2 separate regions of the Homo sapiens genome follow, and region 2 is linked to region 1. The links come from fine-mapping of genetic effects on plasma protein levels. A gene starts in region 1. The other region holds a variant in brackets. All regions are shown on one strand. Distances are between the middles of the regions. Region 1 holds the start of SIGLEC7 (sialic acid binding Ig like lectin 7). Region 2 overlaps SIGLEC9 (sialic acid binding Ig like lectin 9).

Region 1 (10,064 bases):
TCCCACGCCGAGGGAACTTATGATGAGACAGCCCCAGGAAAGTGCCTGACACGTATTCCCTGGGCTGCCCCTTCCCTTCCACATGCTTCCTGAGTGAGCACGTCCACCTTGTGGCTCAGCTGTGAGCCCTGCCCTGATGTCTCCCCCACTTTCTGCCCCTTGAGCCTCTTCTTGGACATGGTGCCTCCATCCCCCACCCCCGACTCTTCAGTTATCCCAGTCAGGACCCAGGACTTATTCCAGTTGCCTCCTGTTTTCAACCACCCCATGCATGAGTCAGGGGTTCCTGTAAACTTCACTTCCCCAAAAATGTCTGCCATCATGCCCTTCCTCCTCCCTCCATTCCCTGTCTCCTCCCCTCTATCTGCATGGCCAGGCCCTTTTCGGTCTTGACGATTGCTCCATTTCCCACCCAACATCCCGGTCTGCAGCCTCTCGCCTCCATGCTGTGGCCCTCGCAGCACAAGCCCTGAAAAATTTTCCTGCATCCAGAGCTGACACTGCCTCTTCCCTGCTCAGGGCCCTCTCTGGTTCCCTGGAACCCTCAGTCCAAGCTGTTCAGCTGATCATGTCCCAGCACCTCCAATTTCCCCCTGGAAGACCCCACACATATTTGCAGGGCCCTTCATCTGCCCGGCTGTCTCATGGCCTGTGCTTTTTCCCCTCCACCTGAGGTGCCCTTAGCCACCTGTTAATATGACCAACTCCCCCACTAGTCTCAGCTCAGCCTCTTTCCCTGCGGGGTCTTTCAGCTTTTTGAACTCCTGGATTTGCATTCGTGAGTATGTGTCACACAGTCAGGTGTCTCCTCTTTCTGTTTTTGTGGGGTTGTGGGAGAGACAGCCTCTCAGCTCCACCCTCCCCGCTCTCACTGTTTTCCTCACTCAACCCTGAAGACCCTGAGCAATGGCACCTCGCTTCCTGTCCTGGAGGGTCAGTCCCTGGGCCTGGTCTGTGTGACTGACAGCAACTCCCCCGCCTCACTGAGCTGGTCTCAGGAGGGAAGAACACTGAATCTCTCCCAGCTCTCAGCAACTGGGATCCTGGAGCTGCCCCAGAAAGGGACTGGAGGTGAAGGCGACCTCACCTGTGAGGCTCAGCACCCACTGGGCTCCCAGCACATTTCCCTGAGCCTCTCTGTGCAGAGGGAGCTGCTGGACGGGTGCTGGGGCAGGCAGCCTGGTCAGGTGTTGGGCTGTGAGAGGGGCCTAGACCTAGGAACAAAACCTCACCCTCTTCTCCCCACTCCCAGGAAGTCCCTCTGGGTGCAGATGTGCGAGTGAAGATCAGGAGGGCTCCCAGCCCCTGGTTCTCACCTAATCAAGGGGCGCTCATGGGCACTGGTTTTTCCTTCACCCGTGGCCTCACCTGGGGCTACTACTCCAGGTGAGCAGGGCTGCTCTTTTCTAGGGAAGCCGAGGGATTGGCCCCCGAGTTCCAGATGGGGCTGAGCTGTCCTGTCCCGCCTGAGTTAGAATTGAAGTGGCCGATGCTAATCTGAGGCCGGTGTTGGCTCTACAGGTGTGGAGGCCCCCAGGGGAGCAGGGCTGAGAGGCCTGACTGAGCCCCTCCTGCTCAAGACAGAACTCAGATGAGGACACCCAGCCCTGCGGGACAGATGCAGGACATCACTGTCAGCCATGGCTCAGCCCTTCTGACCACTGAGATGCTGCAACTTCCCCTCCTGGGAGGGAGCGATTGGGCAAACACTTACCCTTTGCTGGAAATCTCAAGGCACAGCACGGGTGCTCACAATCTGAATACAGAACGAATGAATGAATGAATGAATGAATGAATGAAATGTCTTTCCTTATCTCATGTGAGAGACTTGACAGTTCTTTCACTCTCCAAGTAACATCAGCTTCCCCTGTCCCAGCCCAGTCTGTCCTGGGCAGACAAGATTAATTAAGTGGCTCCTGGGCAGACATTGGTGCAGGAGACAGGGCCCAGGAGACCTGTGTGATTTGGGCAATTCGCTTTCTATCTCTGTCCATTCATGCTGCTACAACAAAATACCATAAACTGGCCAGTTTATAAACAACAGAAATTCATTTCTCACAGTTCTGGAGGCTGAGAAGTCCAAGACCAAGGTGCCAGCAGGTTTGGTGTCTGGAGACAGTTTGCTTCCTCATAGATGGTGCCTTTTCCTTATGTTCTCATGTGGTGGAAGGGCTGTGCAAATTCCCCTGGGTCTCTCAGATGAGGGGACTAATCCCATTAGACTAATCCCAGAGTCCTCATAGCCTAATCGCCTCCCAAATCATTATACCTTCTAATACTATCACATGGGGATTCAAATTTCAACAAATGAATTTTGAGGTGACATATTCAGACCATAGCACTTGTCACTGTGGACCTTGATGTCTTCCTCTCCGAACTGTGGAAGTGGGAGTAGAGGGCTTGTCAGCTCCCCTGGGTCATATGTGGTTCACAAGTTCCTCCTTTCTACAGATTCTGTGGCTTCCTTAAGTCTCTCCTTCCCATTTTTTTTTCTGATTTTAATTGCAAACTGGGGACTGTGGGAAAGAGATGGGCCATGGTCTAGCCCTTCTGAGGCAGGAGGAGCATAGACCAATGGGGCAGGAGCATAGCAAAGAGAATTAAAAGTTGGATAAAGGGCAGAATAAGTAAAAGCAGAGAGCAGAAGCAAGGTGAGGGGACGGGTGAGCAAGAAGCAAGAGGCAGAAGTTGAGCAGCCAAAACAAAAAGTAAGATAGAGAAGTGAGCAAGGACACCCGTGGCCAGCAGGATCTGGACCAAACCAGTAAGGGGCAGTTCTTCAGAGCTATGCATGTGCATTAGAGAGAAAAAGTATCCTTAACATGACCCTGTATGATAATCAGCTCATTAAAGTTCATGCATATGGACTGCATATTATCCATGTACTTAAAATTATGGGATGGGTCAAAGTAACTAAGCAACATACTTAACCATCAAAAAGGCAGGCACTGGCCAGGCGCGGTGGCTCACGCCTGTAATCCCAGCACTTTGGGAGGCCAAGGTGGGCGGATCACTTGAGGTCAGGAATTCAGGACCAGCCTGGCCAACCTGGTGAAACCCCATCTCTACTAAAAATACAAAAATTAGCCAGGCATGGTGGCGGGCGCCTGTAGTCCCAGCTACCAGGGAGGCAGAGGCAGAAGAATCGCTTCAACCCAAAAGGTTGAGGTTGCAGTGAGCCAAGATTGTGCCACTGCACTCAAGCTTGGGTGACTTCGTCCCCACCTCACCACCACCCCTTCCCCCCGAAAAAAGGCAGACACTGGATAGAGATTTGGCAGCCTTGGGAAGCGAAGAAAAACAAAAAAACAAACAAACAAACATAAAAAGACCCAAAGTAATGCTGATCTCACCTCATAGAGATCAGTTCGCTCTCCCTCTCCAAGAGTGTGATACTGTGCTTAATAAACTGCTGCTTCTTGCTTTGCTGTCTGTGTGTGTCTCATCCAATTCTTTGTTTAAGACACCAAGAGCCTGGAACTGCATGGCACCATCCGGTAACACTTCTGCCCACTGAGATACTGCAAATATCCTTATGGGGAGAGAGTGGCTGGGCAAGGAGGAGGCGCCCAGGAGGCAGATTGGTCTGCAGGATGAGATACTAGCTGCAAATGCAGGGATTGGAGGTGAGGGCGGGGAGTGGCTTCGGACGCCCAAACCCAGCATCTTCCTCTCTCAATCGTTACAGCCAAATGATCTCTAGGTTATGGACAATTAGGGGACAGTGTGGGCTGAGCAGATCAATGCAGTTGTATGGAAGAAAACAGACTGGGATTTTCTATGTATACAACATCTTCAGGAAAACCTACGTGAAGTTAGAATTTTCAAGGCAGCATGTGCCGATGATAAAACTACATAGAACAGCAGGAAGACTATTATCATTAAAGTGAGGCTAGGGGCTCCTTCAGGAGGGAGCGGGGGCATGGCCAATAGGAAAGGGGAATGTAAGGGTGAATGAATTAATAAAATCTCTTTCTTCATTTCAAGGGACAGACTTGACAGTTCTTTTGTGTTCTAGTTCTTCAAGGGTGCTTATTTTGTGTGAATCACTGAGTTGGTTTTTAGGGGACACTTTTATGTACATGTCTTGTGTTTCTCCCCGCTCAAAAAAAACTGTTTCAAGAAAAGCTGGCCTGGATCTAAGGGGGCTGCAGCTTGCAGGATTTTTCCCACTTCCTCCCAGCCCAGTCACACAGTTTAAAATAATCTTCTGTTGAAGTCAGGTGCGTGTTTCTTCTCTCAGAAAATCGCGCCCATCACTGAGGGTGGACGCCCCGGGGCTGGTGTCTTTGCTCCACGTCTCCTGTTCACCTGAACCCCTAGGAGCAGTTCCTGCAGGAGCAAAGCCCCAGGGCCAGCAGACCCCTCACACTCTGCACTAACCAGGCCTCATGAGATAGCAGTGGTGAAGGGAAATGTCCTTGTGCTCAGAGAGCTGTGAGGATGGGAATAGTGTCTGCTCTTTTCATATTGATCCTTTCCCTTATGACTTTCCTGTCTACCAAGCCCCACAATACAACAATCACAGCCTCAGCTTCCCCGGCCTCCTGCAGGCTGGGCTCCCCTCCGTGTCCTTGGCGTGTATCAACAGGCGCAATCCTCACCTTCACAGCCCCATGTCCGTCTGCTCGGTCCTCCTGAGACTGAACCCCCGACCTAGGGGAGAGTGACCCCACCCTGCCTGTGCCCCCCACTGAAGCTCCTGTCATGGGGAGCTCAAACGTCAGGAGACTCAGTGTCTCCCCACCACACAGTGACTCCTTGGGGACAGTGTCCGGCTCTGCTGTGTTGACCTCATTGTGCAGAAAGGGGGTGCCCACCTCGTGGCTGCTGAGGGAGGGATGAGAGGCTGCCTGTTCACCCCACCTGCACCCCTGTCTCTCATGGCCCCGAGTCCCACTTCTGAGCTACGCAGACATCCACAGCCTGTGACTCAGGGGTCTGGGCAGATGGGAGTTATTTTCACCCTGCAGAAAATATCACCTAAAGGGAAAGGCATTGAGAGGGAGGCAGGAGGTGGGGTGGGCCCTGCATGGGGTGGGAATCTGGGTGAGTCTGTCTCCCGCTCTGGCCTCAGGGACCCAGGAGTGAATGTCGGGTGGTGGACGGTGGATCTCCCAGGGCTGACCCAGCCCTGACAGTGTCTGTGTGTGAAGTTCTTCTTCTAAGGAGGTCACTGTTTTGACCTCACCACCGACTTCCTGTAGGGCCTCTTCTAAGTCTTGAGCCCGCAGTTCCTGAGAGAAGAACCCTGAGGAACAGACGTTCCCTCGCGGCCCTGGCACCTCCAACCCCAGATATGCTGCTGCTGCTGCTGCTGCCCCTGCTCTGGGGGAGGGAGAGGGTGGAAGGACAGAAGAGTAACCGGAAGGATTACTCGCTGACGATGCAGAGTTCCGTGACCGTGCAAGAGGGCATGTGTGTCCATGTGCGCTGCTCCTTCTCCTACCCAGTGGACAGCCAGACTGACTCTGACCCAGTTCATGGCTACTGGTTCCGGGCAGGGAATGATATAAGCTGGAAGGCTCCAGTGGCCACAAACAACCCAGCTTGGGCAGTGCAGGAGGAAACTCGGGACCGATTCCACCTCCTTGGGGACCCACAGACCAAAAATTGCACCCTGAGCATCAGAGATGCCAGAATGAGTGATGCGGGGAGATACTTCTTTCGTATGGAGAAAGGAAATATAAAATGGAATTATAAATATGACCAGCTCTCTGTGAACGTGACAGGTAAGGCACGGGCTCCAAGAGAGGCCAAAGGCAAATGTGATGAGGGCTTTAGGGCACGGCTGAGACGGGACACATGTCCTGGGAGGGGGCCGGGGGTGATGGACTCAGGAGAGGAGCTGGACCAGAGCCTGAGCTTCCCCAGGACCGCACCTTGGATGCCCCTCCTGATCCTGCAGGCCCCTCCCCTCACCAGCCCTGACCCACAGGCCTGACATCCTCATCCTGCCTCTGACGCTGGCATTGTGGCATGTGGGGCCTTATGACTCCTTGTTTTGGGGCCTGTCCTAGGCATGGCCGGGGTTTAGCACCATCCCAGGCCTCTCCCCACCAGATGCCAGAAGCACCCACTCCACCCATGCAGTGAGACAATAACAATTATCTCCACACATTGTTAAACGTCCTGGGGGGTTAAGTCCTCCCCAGTTGAGAGCCTTAGGTCTACACAACCCCGTGACTCTCTCAGGCCAGGCCAGGGAGGAAGCACTTCCTGGCGCAAACCAAGGGCAGCAGAGGCACCTGAGCCTGGACAGGGAGACTCAGCACACGGCCCCTCCATCTCTCATGCCCTGAGGTCCTCGGAGATCCACATTTAGATGCTCAAAAGACAGGAGGGACCTCCACGATGGTCCAGAGGCCGGGAGGGCAGGACCTACGTGTCTGGTGCAGGCCCTGGTGCTCCAGGGAAGCCCGGAGGTAGGAGGTGGGACACGGTCTCTTCTCCTCCCTGGGTGGGTCTCTAGGGTCTCTGAGCTTCAGGGTTTCCTTCACTCTGTGCAGAGGGAACCAGTTCCTATAGCATGTGGGTTTGTAGTTTCTCTTTCGTGCTGGGTTGAGGTCTCCAGCTCCTCTCCAGCCCCTCTCCAGCCCCCTGTGGGTCCCACAGCCCTGCCCCTCCTCTCCCTCCCACTTCTCTGCTCACACAAGGAGCCCAGGAACCCTCTGTCTCAGAGATGCTGCTGCCTCTCTTGTGGGCAAATGAAGAGAGGGACAGTCGGGGCTGGGCTGAGCCTCATTTCCCCACAGCGTCCCAGGCCCCACTGTCAAGATACAGGCTGGAGGTGCTGGAGTTGGTGATGGTGCAGGAGGGCTAGTGCGTCTCTGTGCCCTGCAGTGTCCTTTAACCCTATTACAACTGAACTGACTCTAGCCCTGTCCATGGATGCTGGTTTAAGAAAGGGATCAATATACAATGGAATAATCCAGTGGCCACAAACATCCCAAATGGAAAAGTGCAGGAGACACGGGGCCGATTCCACCTCCTTGGGGACCTGAAGACCAACAACTGCTCCCTGAGCATCAGAGATGCCAGGAAGGGGGATTTGAGGAACTACTACTTCCAGGTGGAGAGAGGACAGATAAGATGGAATTACAAAACGAAGCAGCTCTCTGTGAATGTGACAGATAAGGCACAGGCTCCAGGAGACACCACAGGGAAAGGTCATGGGGGTGGCAGCGAAAGCCTGGGATGGGGCCCCTGCCCTGGGAGAGGGCTGAGGGTGAAGCGAGTTGGGCTCAGGGCAGAAGCTGAACCAGAGCCTGAGCTTCCCCCAGGGCTGTACCATGGATCCTCTGTCCTGATCCTGAGTCCCCCTCTCTTCACCAGCCTTGACCCACAGGCCCAACATCCTTATCCCCGGTACCCTGGAGTCTGGCTGCTTCCAGAATCTGACCTGCTCTGTGCCCTGGGCCTGTGAGCAGGGGACGCCCCCTATGATCTCCTGGATGGGGACCTCTGTGTCCCCCCTGCACCCCTCCACCACCCGCTCCTCAGTGCTCACCCTCATCCCACAGCCCCAGCACCACGGCACCAGCCTCACCTGTCAGGTGACCTTGCCTGGGGCCGGCGTGACCACGAACAGGACCATCCAACTCAATGTGTCCTGTGAGTGCTGAGCCAGGACGCCCTGGTCCCTGATGAGGGGGGGACGTCCCTGAGGGCAGAGGATGGGGTCAGGGCTCGACACTGGGTGCTGGGTCCCAGAATCTGGGCTGGTTGTGGGATCAGGAGGACGCTGGCTCCGCCTTCCCCATTTATGCAGCTCCTGGGGAGACAGGGCCAGTGTCCCCAGCCCTCACAGTGATGCAGGTCTCCATGTCTTTCTGTCCCAGACCCTCCTCAGAACTTGACTGTGACTGTCTTCCAAGGAGAAGGCACAGGTAGGATGGAGCCCCCTCCCTGGGGCTGGGGGAGCAGGGCCTTCAGCTCAGGGCAGGGCCAGGTCCCTCCTCATCCTGGACTCACCCTGGTGATATGAGACTCCCTTGTAGTTGAACCCAGGCCTCCTCCCCATCCTTAGCCTCTGTGGCCACCTGAGCACCTGTCCTCTTCCCCCCACTCCCCTCAGACTCTTGCACACACACCCTCCTCAGCCCTGCAGCCAGGACAGGGGGAAATACATATAGCAGGAGCAGCCTTTGGGCCTCTTATCTTCCATCTCCTGAATATGCCACCTAACTCGTCTTTTTATTTTACCCAATAGTTTTGAGCTACGTTCTTTTGGATACATGCTATAATCACGTGGGCAAAAATTTTAAATTCACAGTAAAATGTGTCCCCAGAATCAACCAGGGTCTGTCCAGGCTGTCCTGAGCCTTGGTTTGTGCACCTGGAAGATCTCAGAGGTGGTTTGATGTCAGCAGTGAGACTGTTTGCACCCTCTTCTAGGGATGTGTGTGATTCCACTGTCTGAATAGTCTCTGATTTTGTGGCATCTCCTAATGGAAGATCATGGCACTAATTTTATCCTACGGCACGAACACTGCAATGAATAATGTTGTATCTACTCCCACAAGGAATATCTAAGTGTATAGGATAAATTCCTAAAAGCACATTTTACCAGTGTCATATGTTCTTTCTGATTTTGAAAGATATGGTGAAGTTGTCCTCAAATAAAGGTGGGCAAGTTTACATTCCCAACAGTGAGCGGTGAACATAAGTATGTCCCTGCACCAGCCTACATCACTCTCTGTTCCATTCCCCAGTCTCATTCTGTATCCTTCCTCCCTGTTTCAATCACTTTGTCTCTTTGAACCTCCAACTTTTTCTCTACAGCATCCACAGCTCTGGGGAACAGCTCATCTCTTTCAGTCCTAGAGGGCCAGTCTCTGCGCTTGGTCTGTGCTGTTGACAGCAATCCCCCTGCCAGGCTGAGCTGGACCTGGAGGAGTCTGACCCTGTACCCCTCACAGCCCTCAAACCCTCTGGTACTGGAGCTGCAAGTGCACCTGGGGGATGAAGGGGAATTCACCTGTCGAGCTCAGAACTCTCTGGGTTCCCAGCACGTTTCCCTGAACCTCTCCCTGCAACAGGAGTACACAGGTGGGTAAGGGAGGGGCTGGAGGAGGAGAACACACCTGCCCCACCCTCATGGGCCACCCACTGCCCCTGAGCTTCAAGGGGGAGCTCAGCTCTGGTCTGTGCTCAGCTGTGAGGCCTGGAACTTCCCTGCAACCCAGGGCACTGCTGTCCTCTTCCTGCCAGGAAAGGTGTGTAAGGCAGGAAGAGGGGAGGAGTGGGTCTTGGAGGGGAGGAGCTGGGGCCTGGACAGGTGTGTTTGGGGAGACACGTGCCTTGCTTTCCAGTGCCTGGACTAGGGTGACACAAGCAAGGCACTCACTTCTGGGCACACGACTAAAAAACAAAAAATAAAACAACTCAGCAAGCAAGTGAAATAATATTGGATGTGATTATCTTTATTAAAAACTAAAAATTATTGCAAAATAATTTGACAGTGAATACAAATCAAAATTTCAAATACAGGCAGGCTGTGCTTACCACTCTCATGCCTCAGTGACCTCAGGAGTTGTCCCTTCCTCCTCCCTCCCATTCTTGCCCTTTGTTTCTGGGAAGGGGGATTAGGGTACCCAAGTTGGGGGCCTTATAGGAAGTGGGAGGAGAAGAGACCCAGTTCTTGGAGTTGGATCACCAAAACAATTCCAATCCATCCTCAGGCAAAATGAGGCCTGTATCAGGAGTGTTGCTGGGGGCGGTCGGGGGAGCTGGAGCCACAGCCCTGGTCTTCCTCTCCTTCTGTGTCATCTTCATTGTGTGAGCACTGACCCTAGGGAGGGAGGGAGAGTCCTGGGGGAGGGCGGACTGGGAGCAGGATCCCTGAAGCCAGAGCTGGAAGGGACTGCATGGGTCAAGAGCTTGGGGCAAGAATGAGCTCACGGGTGCGTGGCAAGAATTTCAAGAGCGCCCTTGTCTGTGGGGCTCCACATCTGTGGTGAACCTTGGGCCCCACCACCCAGGAGGCAGGAGCCTCTGTTTTCAACACTGGGGTCTCTGGGACTGGACCACCCTCCTCCCACCTCAGTTACCCCTCCAGCGCC
Region 2 (10,064 bases), 11 kb before region 1:
CCCCTCCACCACCCGCTCCTCGGTGCTCACCCTCATCCCACAGCCCCAGGACCATGGCACCAGCCTCACCTGTCAGGTGACCTTCCCTGGGGCCAGCGTGACCACGAACAAGACCGTCCATCTCAACGTGTCCTGTGAGTGCTGGGCCGGGACGCCTGGGTCCCTGATGGGGTGAGCGTCAAGCCTGGACACTGGGTGCTGGGTCCCGGAATCTGGGCTGGTGGTGGGGTCAGGAGGACACTGGCTCTGCCTTCCCTGTTTATGCGGCTCCTGGGGACAGACAGGGCCAGTGTCCCCAGCCCTCACAGTGATGCGGGTCTCCATGTCTTTCTGTCCCAGACCCGCCTCAGAACTTGACCATGACTGTCTTCCAAGGAGACGGCACAGGTAGGATGGAGCTCCCTCCCTGGGGCTGGAGGAGCAGGGCCTTCAGGTCAGGATGGGGCTGGCTTATTCCTCAACCTGGACTCACTTTGGCAAACAGGGATGTCCTTGTGGGTGAACTCAGGGCCCCTCTGTATCCTTAGGCCCCAAGGCCACTTGTTCCCATCCTCCCATCACCTCCCTTGGACTCCCCCACACACCCCCCCCTCAGCCTCAAACAAGAAGAGGGTGGCATTCACACAGCAGGACCAGGCTTTGAGGCTCCTTCTCATGTATCTCCTGAATACATCTCCACCCTTATCTGTTTATTTCTGATAGTTCTGATCTAAGTACTTCTGGACAGGTGATAAATGTCCATGGGCAAAAATTCAAATTGCAGAGCAAAGGCTCTCCTCCGATGCCTGCCCCCCTCCCCAGAACCAACCACTGTCCATCCAGGCTGCCCTGAGTCTCGGTTTGTACACCTGGAGGATCTCAGAGGTGGTTTGACGTCCGTAGTGAGACTGTCCGCACCCTCCTCTAGGGCTGTGTGTGAGTCCACTGCATGGATGGACTCTGATTTTGTGGCATCTCCTAATGGAAGATCACGGCACTAATTTCATCCTACGGCAGGATAGAACAATCTTGTATCTACTTCCACAGGAATATCTAAGCCTGTGGGTTAAGTTCCTAAAAGCAAAATGTAGCTACATTATATGTTCTTTCTTATTTTGAAAGATAAGCCCAAACTGTTCTCGATGAAGCGGGGAGAAGTTTACATTCCCAGCAGTGAGTGGTGAAAGTGTGTGTTTCCAGAACTTCAGTCTATGTCTGTGTGTCAGTTGCTGTCATCAGTCTCTTTCTGTATCCTTCCTTTTTCTCCAGATCTATGTATCTCTCTGACCCTCTGTCTCTTTTTCTACAGTATCCACAGTCTTGGGAAATGGCTCATCTCTGTCACTCCCAGAGGGCCAGTCTCTGCGCCTGGTCTGTGCAGTTGATGCAGTTGACAGCAATCCCCCTGCCAGGCTGAGCCTGAGCTGGAGAGGCCTGACCCTGTGCCCCTCACAGCCCTCAAACCCGGGGGTGCTGGAGCTGCCTTGGGTGCACCTGAGGGATGCAGCTGAATTCACCTGCAGAGCTCAGAACCCTCTCGGCTCTCAGCAGGTCTACCTGAACGTCTCCCTGCAGAGTGAGTGCACCAGTATGCTGGGGAGGGGCTGGAGAGGAGAACACACCTCCTCCACCCTTAGTAACTGCTGAGCGTGGACCTTCAGAGAGGAGCTCCGCTCTGGTCTGTGCTCAGCTGTGAGGTCTGGAACTTCCCTGGGACCCACAGCACCACTGTCCTCTTCCTGCCAGGGAAGGGTTGTGGGGTGGGGAGAGGGCAGGAGTGGATCTCAGAGGGGACAGGATGGGGCCGGACAGGTGTGTTTAGGGAGACAAGCGCCTTTCTTTGCAGGGCTGAACTGGAGTCACACAACTGAGATACTTGCTTTGAGCATCAAATTAAAAAAAAGAAAAAGCCCAGCAAGTCAGCAATCAAATGAAATCATATTGCAATGCAATAATCTTTTAAAAAAAGTAAAAATTGAATGCAAAACAAATTCATTAATGGATAAAATATTAAAATTGTGAAAAAAAACCCCAAAAGGAATGGCTGGCACTTGCACGCCTCACTGGCCTCAGGAAGAGTCTCTCCATGTCCTGCTCTCTCTCATTCCTGTTCTTTGTGTCTGGAAAGGGGAAGTGGAAATAGAAGTCTAGGACCCTACAGGAAGTGGGAGGAGAAGAGACCCAATTCTCTATGATATATCACAAAAATAACTCCCATCTGTCAACAGGCAAAGCCACATCAGGAGTGACTCAGGGGGTGGTCGGGGGAGCTGGAGCCACAGCCCTGGTCTTCCTGTCCTTCTGCGTCATCTTCGTTGTGTAAGCATGGACCCTAGAGAGGGAGGGAGGGAGAGCCCTGGGGGAGGACAGGCTGGAAGCTGGATCCCTGAAGCCAGAGCTGGAGGGACCTGGATGGGTCAAGAGCTTGGGGCAAGAAGGAGGTCACAGGTGCATGGTGAGAATTCCATGTGGGCCTGTGTTTGAGGAGCTTTGAGTCTGTGGCAAACCTTGGTACCCACTGTCCAGGAGAAGAGAGCCTCTGTTCTCAACCTTGGGGTCTCTAAGACTGGACCACTGCTTTCCCACCTCAGTCACCCCTGCAGTCCCTTAATAGGAAACACATGGGGGTACCTGGTCTGCCCACCGCACCCCAATCTGACCACACTGAAAGGCTCTCTGGTCTCTTCACTCAGAGTGAGGTCCTGCAGGAAGAAATCGGCAAGGCCAGCAGCGGGCGTGGGAGATACGGGCATAGAGGATGCAAACGCTGTCAGGGGTTCAGCCTCTCAGGTGAGTGATGTGGACTCTCCACAGCCAGCATGTAGCCTGGACACCTCCCACAGGATGACCCCCAGGACTAATCAGCTGGGCGTAGCCAAAGTTACCTCCTCTCTGTTCTTCCTTTCTTCTCTGTAGCCCCAAATCACAATGTTTGGTTGGTTTCCTCCCCTAAGAACAGCTTTTATTGTCTCTGCTCCCTATCCTGACCCTTCATTGCTGAGGCCTGAGGATCTCTGTCTTTTGTTCCCTCACCTGTCTGCCTGTCTCCTCTCCTTTCCTGCCTGGGGGGACTGTCCAGAAGACATCATCGTCCAGTTCCTCTGCATTTGAACAGCTGTTCCCCCACCCCTCAATACCGTTTAGAGCAGAAGCCAGCAAATACTATCTGTCAGGGACAGATAGAAACTATTTTCGGCTTCATGGGCCACACAGTCTCATTGCAGCTCCTCAAATCTGCTGTTGTAGCAAGAAAGAAGCCATATACCCTGTGTAAACAAATGAATATGGCTGTGTGCCAATAAAACTATTCACAAACATAAAGAGTGGGCTGGATATGACTCAGATACTGTAGTTTGACAACCCCTGATCTAGAGTAAAAATCCCAAACTCTATAGCCTGCAGCAGTGCACATTCTGACTTTTTTTGTTTTTTTTTTTTTTTGTTGTTGTTGTTTTTGAGACAGAGTCTTGCTCTGTCGCCCAGGCTGGAGTGCAGTGGTGCGATCTCTGCTCACTGCAACTTCCACCTTCCGGGTTCAAGCCATTCTCCTGCCTCAGCCTCCGGAGTAGCTGGGACTACAGGCGCCTGCCACCACGCCCAGCTAATTTTTTTGTATTTTTAGTAGAGACGGGGTTTCACTGTGTTAGCCAGGATGGTCTCAGTCTCCTGACCTTGTGATCTGCCCACCTTGGCTTCCCGAAGTGCTGGGATTACAGGCGTGAGCCACTGTGACCGGCCACATTCTGACCTTTTAAGCACCTACCTCTCCACTAGGGCAAGAACAAGGGTGAAGTGAGTGAGGCTGTTGCCTCAAGTGCATTTTTTCGTTTGTTTGTTTTTGTTTTTTGAGATGGAGTCTCGCTCTGTCACCCAGGATGTAGTGCAGTGGCACAATCTTGGCTTACTGCAACCTCTGCCTCCTAGGTTCAAGCGATTCTCCTGCCTCAGCCTCCTGAGTAGCTGGGATTAAAGGTGCACACCACCACACCTGGCTAATTTTGTATTTTTAGTAGAGACAGGGTTTCACCATGTTGGCCAGGCTGGTCTCAAACTCCTGACCTCAGGTGATCCGCCTACCTCAGCCTCCTGAAGAGCTGGGATTACAGATGTGAGCCACCGCGCCCCATCCTCACTGTCTGCTCTGACTCACTTCTCTCTCCCATGTCTCAGGGGCCCCTGACTGAACCTTGGGCAGAAGACAGTCCCCCAGACCAGCCTCCCCCAGCTTCTGCCCGCTCCTCAGTGGGGGAAGGAGAGCTCCAGTATGCATCCCTCAGCTTCCAGATGGTGAAGCCTTGGGACTCGCGGGGACAGGAGGCCACTGACACCGAGTACTCGGAGATCAAGATCCACAGATGAGAAACTGCAGAGACTCACCCTGATTGAGGGATCACAGCCCCTCCAGGCAAGGGAGAAGTCAGAGGCTGATTCTTGTAGAATTAACAGCCCTCAACGTGATGAGCTATGATAACACTATGAATTATGTGCAGAGTGAAAAGCACACAGGCTTTAGAGTCAAAGTATCTCAAACCTGAATCCACACTGTGCCCTCCCTTTTATTTTTTTAACTAAAAGACAGACAAATTCCTACCTCTCTGTACCTTGGTTTCCTGCTCTGTAAAACAGGAATGAGAAGCCCTACTTGCAAGGTTGTGGTCACCATTCCAGGAGTCACATCCCGTTAGAGCTCCTGGCACAGGTGTATGCCGAGCACTGATGGATCGCTGTGCTTTGAACACAAAGGTCCTGCTGGGAACCTCTCCTGATTCTGGTGGCAACTAGTACTTATATGTCTGTGTCACTTGCCTGCAAAATAGCGATTCTGCAACTTTCCAGGAAATAACCTCAGCCTGCAAATCAGGTCTAGGTAGCATCTGGATCCTGCCCACCTCTTCAGCCTCATCTGCCCACCCTGTGACTGCTAGGCCGCCTTACTCTCTGCAGTCTACGTATTGTGCACAGTCCAGTGGGAATCTTTAGGACACACTGAGCTCTCTCCGCACTGCTCACAGCCCATCCATGGCTCCTGGATCCTGAACCTCCCATCACATCCTCTTCGTGACATCACTCTCCCACTTCAGTCCACTCCTCCATCTTCACCACTTAACCCACTGGTCCCTCTGGTCTTTTCCAAATCATTTGCAACATGCCCTGTTGGTTCATACCTCAGTCCTTGCACACTGGGGACCCTCCTCCTAGAACGCCCTCCTCCTGGGCCTTCTTCTGTCTCTGTCTTTGAAAATGGAGTTCAAGGATTGGACTTCTGGGTTGAGCTGAGGGAGAGAGTGAAGCAGCAGCTCATGATCTCCCTCCTCTAAAGCCAAACCCAGGGAATGAGAAACGTTTCCAAAGGGGCACAGGATCATCTGGCAAATTAAACAACATGATCCAAAAAAATTTACCTACATGCAGCACCCGAACGAGGAAAGGGACATCTCACAACAATCACTTTATGCAGTAGCCCTGATAGGAAGAAATCAAAGGACTGGAGGAAGCACTAAAACTTCCCTAAATCTAGACTCTTGCCCATTTACGGCAGCATCAAAAAACCGTAAAGTACCAAGGAACAATTTTTTAAAAATCATGGCCGGGCACAGTGTCTCACGCCTGTAATTCCAGCACTTTGGGAGGCCGAGGTGGGCAGATCACGAGGTCAGGAGATCGAGACCATCCTGGCTAACATGGTGAAACCCTGTCTCTACTAAAAATACAAAAATTAGCCGGGCGTGGTGGCGGGTGCCTGTAGTCCCAGCTACTCGGGAGGCTGAGGCAGGAGAATGGCGTGAACCCGGGTGGTGGAGCTTGCAGTGAGCTGAGATCGTGCCACTGCACTCCAGCCTGGGAGACAGAGCGAGACTCCGTCTCAAAAAAAATAAATAAATAAATAAATAAATAA[G/A]TAAAAAATCATATCCGAGCTGGGCGTGGTGGCTCACGCCTGTCATCCCAACACTTTGGGAGGCTGAGGAGGGCAAATCACTTCAGGTCAGGGGTTCAAGACCAGCCTGGCCAACATGGTGAAACCCCATGTCTACTAAAAATACAAAAATTAGCCAGGCGAGGTGGCGTATGCCTGTAGTCCTTGCTACTTGGGAGGCTGAGGCAGGAGAATTGCTTGAACCCGGGAGGCGGAGGTTGCAGTGAGCTGAGATTGTGCCATTGCACTCTAGCCTGGGCGACAGAGCAAGAGTCTGTGTCAAAAAAAAAAAAAAAAAATCCTATGCTATGGTTTGGATATGGTTTGTTTGGCCCTGCCAAGCCTCCTGTTGATATTTGATGCCCAGTGTTGGCGGTGGGGCCAAATGGGAGGTGTTCAGGTCCCGGGATTGGATCCCTCATGAATGGCTTGGTGCTGTCTTCAAGGTAATGAGAGAGTTCTCACTCTGTTACTTCCTGTGAGAGTTTCTCCAAGAGCTGGGTGTTAAAAAGACATTGGCACCTCCCCTCCCCAGCCCGTGCTTCCTCTCTTGCCGTATTGTCTGCACATGCAGACTTCCTTTTGCCTTCCACCATGAGTGGAAGCTTCCTGAGACCCTCACCAGAAGCAAAGGCTGGTGCCAAGCATTTTCTATGTGGTGCAGAACTGTGAGCCAAATAAACTGTGGGGGGTGCACGGCAACATATTCAAGCTTATGTACAAGGCATTTGAGGTCGAGGCATGGAAAAATACTGAGGCACCGTGTGCGTGTTGTTTGTGCATGAGATTGAAACTCCTTGACCCTGAAAACAGGGCAAGGAACGGAATGTGTGATAAGGAGCGCGGAAAGCAGCCTCCTGAGACTGTAGTCTGAGTGTTTTTACCAGGCCATATGTGTCTCATGACCCGACCGCAAAAGGCCATCTGGTGGACATTTTGGTTTAACAAACCCTTTCGAGAAACACTTGGCGGACGGATTCTGGGGCGGCACTCTTTCAGAGATGCTGCTGCCGCCGCATCCCGCTCAGCTGGAATTGTCTGAGTGCTTCATTCTTGGCGTTCACTGCAGCTACAAGCTGTATAAACCTCTTTTCTTTATAAATTACCCAGCCTCAGATATTACTCTATAGCAACACAAATGAACTAAGATAACACGGAATGCTTCTGTACTGATGAATATAGAACATTTTTGAGAGACTTAAGGAAGGCCCAAATGAAGGAAGAAATATATCACGTTCATGGATTAGAAGGCAAAAATGGTTAAAATGTCAGTTGTCTGCATATTGATTTAGGTAATCCCTGTCAAAATTCCTATATATATATAAAATATATGTATATGTGTATATGTATGTACATAAGTATAGATGAGTGTATATGTATGTATATTGTAAATATAAGTTTATATATATACATATATAGTTATAAATTGATAAGTTGGTTCTGAAATTTATATAAACACATAAAAACCTAGAATAACCAAATCATTGTGATAAGAAACACATTTAGAGAAGGCAGACTTTAACACTAGAGTAATACAGAGAGTGTGGTGTGGACTAGAGTACAGTCTACAAATGGACCCACACATATACAGTCAACTGAATAGCATCAAGTCTATTCAATTGGGACAGGAAAGACTTTTAATAAATGTTGGTAGGTGGTCGGGCGCGGTGGCTCACACCTGTAATCCCAGCACTTTGGGAGGCTGAGGTGGGTGGATCACTTGAGGTCAGGAGTTCAAGACCAGCCTGGATAACATGGTGAAACACCATCTCTACCAAAAATACAAAAAAAAAAAAAAAAAATTAGCTGGGTGTGGTGGCAGGCAACTGTAATCCCAGGTACTAGGGAGGCTGAAGCAGAATTGCTTGAACCCAGGAGGCAGAGGTTGCAGTGAGCCAAGATTGTGCCACTGTACTCCAGCCTGGCGACAGAGTGAGACCCCATCTTGAAAATAAATAAATAAATAAAAAATAAATGTTAGCGGAACAAGTGAAATTAGGGTTGGTAAAAACGAGTGTTGAGCTGTTTCTCACATCACACGCAAAAAATTAGCCTGAAGCGAATCATAAACCTAAAAGTAAAAGCGGAGACTATAATGTTTGTACAACTGTGCTGTTTGATATGGTAACCACTAGCCACATGTGGCTACTGAGCACTTGAAATGTCCTACATTTAGTGAGAAAATAATATAAAAATCTAAGTAATTAATATTTAAAATTGATTACATGTTTCCATGTAACGGCATAATACTCATCAATATATAATAACAATATATAATACATGCAATAGCTTGAATAAATTTTGAAAACATCTTGAGTCAAAGAAGCCAGATGCAAAAGAATACATGCTCTGTAGTTTCACTTATATGAAGTTCAAGAACAGGCCAAACTAATCTACAAAGACAGAAATTCATAACAGTGACTGCCTCAGGTTGGGAGTGGGATTTGGGGATTAACGTGAATGGCACACAGGGGAACTTTCTGGGGTCCTGGGAATTTTATTTCTTTCTTTTCTTTTTTTTTTTTTTTTTTTTTTTTTTTGAGAAGGAGTCTAGCTCTGTTGCCGGGCTGGAGTGCAGTGGCTCACTGCAACCTCCGCCTCCAGGGTTCAAGCGATTCTCCTGCCTCAGCCTCCTGAGTAGCTGGGATTACAGGCACGGGCCACCATGCCCAGCTAATTTTTGTATTTTTAATAGAGATGACCACCATGTTGGCCAAGACCACCATGTTGGCCAGGATGGTCTTGATCTCTTGACCCTGTGATCCAACCACCTCTGCATCCCAAAGTGCTGGGATTACAGGCGTGAGCCACTGCGCCCAGCCAGTCCTAGGAATAGTCTATGTCTTAACTGGGATAGTAATTATGTGGTTATGAATCAAAACACATTGAATCACGCAAATAAAATCTATGTATTTTACTGTATGTAAATTTACCTTTCATGAAAGAGAAATTAAAAACTCTTAAATGATGAAAGCTTTTGGTTCCCTCTTTTTTATTAGACTAGCTAGTGATCTATCAATCTTATTTGTTCTTTCAAAGAACCAACTTTGGGGTATACTGATCTTTTGTAGGAATTTTCGTATCTCAATTTTATTCATTTCAGCTCTGATTTTGGTTATTTGTTTTATTCTGCTAGCTTTGGGGTTGACTTGCTCTTGTTTTTCTAATTCCTCTAGGTGTAATGTTAAGTTGCTAATTTGGGATCTTTCTAACTTTTTGATATGGGTATTCTGGTACATTGCATCTTTACTTTCCTGGATGCTAGGACCAAACTGGACTAGAGTAAATTACGTGGTTCCTTCTGTCCCAAAGAAAGATGTATTTTTAACTCAGGAGCTACATCAGCCCCATCTGGCTACATTAAGCATCCCAGTCTCCTCTGCGTCTCATGCTGGACTCTATGCAAAAGGGACAGCCAGCGAAAGCATTATTGATATGTCAATATTGAGATGTGAGAATTTGATCCTGTCATTATGTTGTTAGCTGGTTGTTATGTAGACGTGATTGTATAGTTGCTTCATAATGTCAGTGGGTTATACACTTAACCACTTAACACCACTTTCTGTGGTGTCATGTAACATTCTTTCACTTCTGTGTTTGGCACTCACTTAAGGACCTCTTATAAGTCAGGTCCGGTGGTAATGAATTTTTTTCAGTTTTTGTTTGTCTGAAAGGGATTTTATTTATCCTTCGTTTATGAAGCTTAGTTTGGCAGGGTATGAAAATCTTGGCTGAAATTTGTTTTCTTTAAGAATGCTGAATATAGGCCCCGAATGTCTTTGGCTTATATGATTTCTGCTAAAAGCTCTTCTGTTAGCCTGATGGGGTTCCCTTTGTACATGACCTGCCTCTTCCTTTTAGCTGCATTGAATATTTTTTCTTTCATGTGAACCTTAGAAAATCTAATGACTCTGTGTCTGGGGGATGGTAATCTTGTACAGTATCTTCCTGGGGTTCTCTGAATTTCCTGAATTTATATGTCAACCTCTCTAGCAAGGTTGGGGAAATTTTTGTGGATGATATCCTCAAATATGTTTTATAAGTTGCTGCGTCTCTCTTTTTCCAGGATTCCAGTGGGCCGTAGGTTTGGTCTCTTTATATAATCCCATATTTGTTGGAGGGTTTTGTCATTTTTTTTAATTCTTTTTTTAAAAATTTTTGTCTGATTGGG

Evidence for each region. A credible set is the group of variants that fine-mapping cannot tell apart. PIP is the posterior inclusion probability: the model's chance that the variant is causal. Protein levels are from the aptamer-based SomaScan assay of Sun 2018.
Region 2: its variant is the best candidate, but not a certain one, in a credible set for the plasma level of the SIGLEC7 protein (Sun 2018, PIP 0.58).

Annotation. Positions count from the first base shown.
Region 1 is chr19:51,137,071-51,147,134 of GRCh38, forward strand. It overlaps SIGLEC7 (sialic acid binding Ig like lectin 7), which reads left to right and starts at 5,231. Exons shown (of 7, transcript NM_014385.4): 1 at 5,231-5,732; 2 at 7,336-7,614; 3 at 7,842-7,889; 4 at 8,785-9,051; 5 at 9,684-9,780. The coding sequence starts at 5,300. LOC124904749 (a long non-coding RNA gene) reads right to left here and starts at 3,440. Exons shown (of 3, transcript XR_007067310.1): 1 at 3,354-3,440; 2 at 1,715-1,756.
Region 2 is chr19:51,125,742-51,135,805 of GRCh38, forward strand. SIGLEC9 (sialic acid binding Ig like lectin 9) reads left to right here. Exons shown (of 7, transcript NM_014441.3): 2 at 1-134; 3 at 340-387; 4 at 1,289-1,555; 5 at 2,208-2,298; 6 at 2,673-2,769; 7 at 4,150-4,569. The coding sequence ends at 4,338. Among named protein-coding and RNA genes, the nearest start is that of SIGLEC9, 5.9 kb to the left of the region's middle. RefSeq lists an enhancer at 3,186-3,235. The variant G/A (reference allele first, on the strand shown) is at 5,876.